Linked DNA regions of Homo sapiens. The protein of the gene in region 1 purifies or fractionates together with the protein of each later gene. This does not show direct contact. Each region holds a gene or a part of one and is shown in the gene's direction. Other genes may lie near its edges. The genes, in order: COA8 and CLUH.

What was found.
Region 2: the proteins of COA8 (region 1) and CLUH purify together in Homo sapiens (affinity purification with mass spectrometry; 3 studies listed by BioGRID and IntAct, with this or other methods). This does not show direct contact.

The regions. Positions count from the first base shown.
Region 1 is NC_000014.9:103,586,803-103,589,339, forward strand, and holds part of COA8 (cytochrome c oxidase assembly factor 8), read left to right. Parts: intron 1-471; coding exon 472-562; intron 563-2,537. UniProt on the Homo sapiens protein: Required for cytochrome c complex (COX) IV assembly and function Protects COX assembly from oxidation-induced degradation, COX being the terminal component of the mitochondrial respiratory chain.
Region 2 is NC_000017.11:2,698,255-2,702,073, reverse strand, and holds part of CLUH (clustered mitochondria protein homolog), read left to right. Parts: intron 1-16; coding exon 17-160; intron 161-336; coding exon 337-461; intron 462-553; coding exon 554-708; intron 709-808; coding exon 809-934; intron 935-1,248; coding exon 1,249-1,396; intron 1,397-1,599; coding exon 1,600-1,692; intron 1,693-3,483; coding exon 3,484-3,819. UniProt on the Homo sapiens protein: mRNA-binding protein involved in proper cytoplasmic distribution of mitochondria.

The DNA.
Region 1 (2,537 bases):
AGGTGATCCACCTGCCTCGGCCTCCCAAAGTGCTAGGATTACAGGCGTGAGTCACCACATCTGGCTAATATTTGTATTTTTAGTAGAGATGGGGTTTCACCATGTTGGCCACGCTGGTCATGAACTCCTGACCTCAAGTGATCCTCCCACCTTGGCCTCCCAAAGTGCTGGGATTATAGGCGTGACCCACTGCACCTAGCCTATTTTGTATTTTTCAGTGTACACATCTTACACGTCTCCTCTCAAATTTATTCCTAAGTCTTTTATTATTTTTGATGCTATCATAAGTAGAATTGTTTTCTTGATTTCATTTCAGACTGTTCATTGCTAGTGTATAGAAATACAATTGATGTTTGTATATTGGTCTTGTATATATCCTGCAAGCTTGCTGAACTCATTTATTAGCTCTAATAGTTTTTTGTTTATCCTTTCTCCTTAAGTCTTAATGTTTAAGCTGAAATTACCTTTCAGGTCAGAAAGCAACATTGAATGCAGAAGAAATGGCGGACTTCTACAAGGAATTTTTAAGTAAAAATTTTCAGAAGCACATGTATTATAACAGGTAGGTGTTTACTCTTTTCCTGAAAATTTGAATAGCACATCCAGATTAGGTAGGAGTGTTTTCTTACCTGAATTTAACAACATTCATGTTTATATCAGAGGTAGAAGTTGCAAGACTTTATCAACTTTTTTTTTTCTTTTTTTCTTTTTTTTTTTTTTTTTGAGACGGAGTTTCGCTCTCTCGCCCAGGCTGGAGTGCAGTGGCGCCATCTTGGCTCACTGCAAGCTCCGCCTCCTGGGTTCACGCCATTCTCCTGCCTCAGCCTCCCGAGTAGCTGGGACTACAGGCACCCGCCAGCACGCCTGGCTAATTTTTTGTATTTTTAGTAGAGACAGGGTTTCACCGTGTTAGGCAGGATGGTCTCAATCTCCTGACCTCGTGATCCGCCTGCCTTGGCCTCCCAAAGTGCTGGGATTACAGGCATGAGCCACTGCGCCTCGTCTATCAACTTTATTTTTTAAGTGACTGCAGTGGCTTAAAAAGATACCAATTTTTTTAGGTCGGGTGTGGTGGTTCACACCTGTAATCCCAGCACTTTAGGAGGCCAAGGTGGGCAGATCACCTGAGGTCAGGAGTTCAAGACCAGCCTGACCAACATGGAGAAACCCTGTCTCTACTAAAAATACAAAATTAGCCAGCTGCTCCGGAGGCTCAGTCAGGAGAATCGCTTGAACGTGGAAGGTGGAGGTTGCGGTGAGCTGAGATCGTGCCATTGCACTCCAGTCTGGGCAAGGAGAACAAAACTCCATCTCAAAAAAAAAAAAAAAAAAAAAAAACGGGTTTTAGCTGGTTACAGATAATAATGACCTGTATTTACAGGTGAAATTAATAGGACATGATATCTGAGATTTGCTTTAAAATATTTGTAGGCTGGATACGGTGGCTCGCACCTGGAATCCCATGACTTTGGGAGGCCAAGGTGGGTAGATCACTTGAGTCCAGGAGTTCAAGACCAGTCTGGGCAACATAGTGAAAGGCTTGAGCTAGGAGGACCACTTGAGCCTGGGAGGTTAAGGCTACAGTGAGCCGAGATCCGGCCACTGCATTCCAGCCTGGATGGCAGACAGAGTAAGACCCTGTCTCAATAAATAAATAAATAAGTAAGTAATTAAAAAAATATATATATATATATAAAACAGTTCCAGAGTTACAAAGCCTGATGGGCAGGTGAAGCCAGACTTCAAGAATGTCGACATGGGCCAGGCACGGTAGCTCACACCTGTACTCCCAGCACTTTGGGAGGCCAAGGCAGATGGATTGCTTGAGCCCAGGAGTTTGAGACCAGCCTGGACAACATGACAAAACCCTGTCTCTACAAAAAATACAAAAATTAGCTTGGTGTGGTAGTGTGCACCTGTAATCCCAGCTACAGGAGGCTGAGGCAGGAGGATCCCTTGAGCCCAGGAGGTGGAGGTTGCAGTGAGCCGAGATCCCGCTACTGCACTCCAGCCTGGGCTACAGAGTGAGACCCTAATAAAAAAAGAGAATATAGATACAGTCAAAGGCTGGATGGACTCAGTGAGGGACAGTCTGACCTAAAGATTAGTCCTGAAATATCTGGATTCCATTTCTAAGGTTGTCATGTATTACTCTGAATTAGTTAAGTCATTCAAACAAGCGAGTATAATCTTTCCCTGGTCTTTGGACACGTAGCTTGTTTGCACGGGGCACAGTCTCTGATGGGCTTCATGTTTTCTCTGTGGCACTCGGGTGAAGAGGACCAGCCTTACCCAAGATCAGGCCTTAGAGGAGCCTGGCCCCCACCACCACCTCCTGCCCCTGCCTTCCCTGTGGCAACAGCAGAAGTGTAGCTTGCTTTTACATGTCATAGAATCAGGTCGTCTGTATTAGTGAAATGGAATATGGCTTTTCCTTGAAGAACTGTAATCCCCATGGGCTACCGGTTTTCTTCTCCTGGAAGCGCTTATTTACTTTGGGCACTGCTCCTCATGACAGCATTGCTTAAGTAGGTGGA
Region 2 (3,819 bases), on another chromosome or scaffold:
CCTGCCTTCCTGACAGAGCCGTACACGGTGCGTGAGGCCCGCATCCACGTGCGCCATGTCCGAGACCTGCTCAAGAGCCTGGACCCATCCGATGCCTTCAACGGGGTTGACTGCAACTCCTTGTCCTTCCTGAGTGTCTTCACCGACGGCGACCTGGGAGGTGCGGGAGGCACTGGGGCCGGGGATTGGGCCAAAGGGCGGGGAGCACGGAGGTGGGGGGCTGGAGAAGGGGCCGAGGGGCCTGGGCCTGAGGCACCCGGACCACGGCCATCAGGAGGTAGGGAGACAGCTGGCCCTGGGTGGCCCTGTGCTGACCACCAGCCTCGGGTCCCTCAGACAGCGGGAAGCGGAAGAAGGGCTTGGAGATGGACCCCATCGACTGCACACCACCCGAGTACATCCTGCCAGGGAGCCGGGAGCGGCCACTGTGTCCCCTGCAGCCCCAAAACCGTGACTGGAAGGTAGGATCCTGGGGGAGGGAGGAAGAGGGTCCCTGGCGGGGTGGAGGCCCCACACCAGAGGCCTGGCCCCTCAGACTCGGCCGCTCCCGAAGCCCTTGCAGTGCCTGAAAGTACTCACCATGAGCGGATGGAACCCGCCCCCGGGGAACCGGAAGATGCACGGGGACCTCATGTACCTGTTTGTGATCACAGCCGAGGACCGGCAAGTCAGCATCACCGCGTCCACACGGGGCTTTTACCTGAATCAGTGAGTCCCTGCCAGCCCACCACACCCCCCTGCCGTGCCAGCCGTCCTGGGTCTGGGCAGACACCTGGGCCCCCGCTCAGTGCCCGCCCTCTCCCTGCAGGTCCACAGCTTATCACTTCAACCCCAAGCCCGCCAGCCCCCGCTTCCTAAGCCATTCCCTAGTGGAGCTGCTCAACCAGATCAGCCCGACCTTCAAGAAGAACTTCGCTGTGCTGCAGAAGAAAAGGTAGTGCCTTTGTCCCCTCCCGCCTTGTCTCATGGCACACGGGGGCATGGGGTGAGCCGGCCCACCTGCACTCCAGTGCTTCTGTCTGAAGAAACCGCCCTGGGCCCCCAGTGTTGGAGTCCCCGCTCTAGGGAGCTGTCGGCCAGTGCCGAGACAGCAGCCGCAGGAGAGGCGCCCGTGCACTTCCATCTGGCTCCAGGGCAGTGTCTCAGGGTGGGAGATGCCGGAGCAGGCGGGGGCCTCAGAAAAGGGGCCCGTGGAAGGGCTCTGAGCTTGGTGGGCTGCCCCATCTCCCCCTCCCCTGCCTGCCACAGGGTCCAGCGCCACCCGTTCGAGAGGATCGCCACCCCATTCCAGGTGTACAGCTGGACAGCCCCCCAGGCGGAGCATGCCATGGATTGCGTGCGTGCAGAGGACGCCTACACCTCGAGGCTGGGCTATGAGGAGCACATTCCTGGACAGGTGCCTGCAACCTGGCCCTGCCCTCGCTGGGCACCCCTGCCCTCCTGGGTGCTGGGCTGGTTCCGTGCACTTCCCTGGAGGCCCCATGCTTGACTTCATTTGGGAGTCTGGGGCTCTTCTCAGGAAGGTAGAAGGAGCGACTTCCGGGAGCAGGTCACAGGGCACAGGCTGAGCTCGTTTTTCCCTCCCTGATCTCTCTGCAGACCCGAGACTGGAATGAGGAGCTGCAGACGACGAGGGAGCTGCCTCGCAAGAACCTGCCTGAGCGGCTGCTCCGAGAAAGGGCCATATTCAAGGTGCCTGCAGCCTCTGCTGACCGGCAGTCTGAGGCCCGCTGTCCACCTGCTGACGGGTTTTCTCATGGAGAGGAGGAAAGCAAGGGAGGCAGGGGCAGCCCTAACCCTGTCAGGTTCCCCGAAGGCCAGTCAGCGTCTCCCGCAGGGTCTGCTAGCCTTCCGCCTCCCAGCAGACCATCCCAGTACCTTTCTCTGGCCTCTCTGAGGCTTTGAGTCCCTGGAAGGAGCGGGCCCTACTTCCCATAGGGACTGAGTGTCCAGGGCCGTGCAGCTTCCCGCCCTCTGTGACTGCTGCGGGGCTTTTGCCTGGGCGAGCACTGGCCGGCCATGGCCCTTCTAGGGCGGGTGCTCATTTGCATAACACTTTTAGTTTGCTGGGGTTTAAAAGTTATTAGTGCTGGGTTACTAAGAGAAATGAGGAAAAGCAGTTGCTTAAGAAAAAAAAAATCTCAGGCCGGCTTCAGTAGCTCATGCCTGTAATCCCAGCACTTTGGGAGGCCGAGGCGGGCGGATCACAAGGTCAGGAGTTCAAGACCAGCCTGGCCAATATGGGGAAACCCCATCTCCACTAAAAATACAAAAATTAGCTGGGTGTGGTGGCGCATGCCTGTAGTCCCAGCTACTCGGGAGTCTGAGACAGGAGAATTGCTTGAACCCAATAGGCGGAGGTTGCAGTGAGCCGAAATTGCATCACTGCACTCCAGCCTGGGCGACAGAACAAGACTACGTCTCAAAAAAAAAAAAAAGAAATCTCAGCCAGGCACAGTGGCTCACGCCTGTAATCCTAGCACTTTGGGAGGCTGAGACAGGCAGATCACTTGAGCCCAGGAGTTGGAAACCAGCCTACGAAACATGGTGAAACCTCGTCTCTGCAAAAAATACAAAAGATTAGCCAGGCATGGTGGCATGTGCCTGTAGTCCCAGCTACTCGGGAGGCTGGAGTGGGAGGATGGCCTGAGCCAGGGGAAGTCGAGGCTTCAGTGAGCTCGGATCTCGTGCCGCTGCATTCCAGCCTTGGCAACAGCGTGATACCCTGTCTGAAAACAACCAACCTCCCATAGTTATACTGCCTAGAGATGATAATTGTAGAAACAAAAACTCATTTCTCGGGTACCGACTTCACCAGAGATGGTGCCAAGTGCGTTATAGAGACTATTTCCTATAATATATTGGACAACTTGTAAAGGTCAATACCTTTATCTGTTCAAGTTCACCTGGCACATAACTGGTGGATCCCAAACCTGCGCACGCTTGTTAATCACTAAGCCCTGCTGTCTCCCTCAGCACAAGTGTATTCTCAAAACATGGGGGTTTTGGTTTGTTTGCGCTTTTTTAGAAATGGAGTCTCACTCTGTCCCCCAGGCTGGAGTGCAGTGGTGTGATTTCGGCTCACTGTAACCTCCACCTCCCGGGTTCAAGCAATTCTCCTGCCTCAGCCTGTCGGGTGGCTGGGACTACAGGCGCGCGCCACCTCGCCTGGCTGATTTTTTTTGTATTTTTATTAGAGATGGGGTTTCACCATATTGGTCAGGCTGGTCTCGAACTCGTGACCTCAAGTGGTCTGACCGCCTCGGCCCCTCAAAGTGCTGGGATTACAGGTGTGAGCCACCGCGCCCGGCCAAAACATGGTTTTCTTGCCCTTTTCTACATATGAGGAAACTGAGGCTCCGGGTCCTTGGGTTTCCAAGGCAGGCCCGGTTGCCTCCGCGGTCTAGGTGCGTGCGCTTGGCCAGGTGGATGCAGGCTCTTGTGGGCGCGGCCTCTAACCCTGCCCTCCTCGACCCCCGCCAGGTGCACAGCGACTTCACCGCGGCAGCCACCAGGGGCGCCATGGCCGTCATTGACGGCAACGTGATGGCCATCAACCCCAGCGAGGAGACCAAGATGCAGATGTTCATCTGGAACAACATCTTCTTCAGCCTGGGCTTCGACGTCCGAGACCACTACAAGGACTTCGGGGGGGACGTGGCGGCCTACGTGGCGCCCACCAACGACCTGAATGGCGTCCGCACGTACAACGCGGTGGACGTGGAGGGGCTGTACACGCTGGGCACGGTGGTGGTGGATTACCGCGGCTACCGGGTCACGGCCCAGTCCATCATCCCCGGCATCCTGGAGCGGGACCAG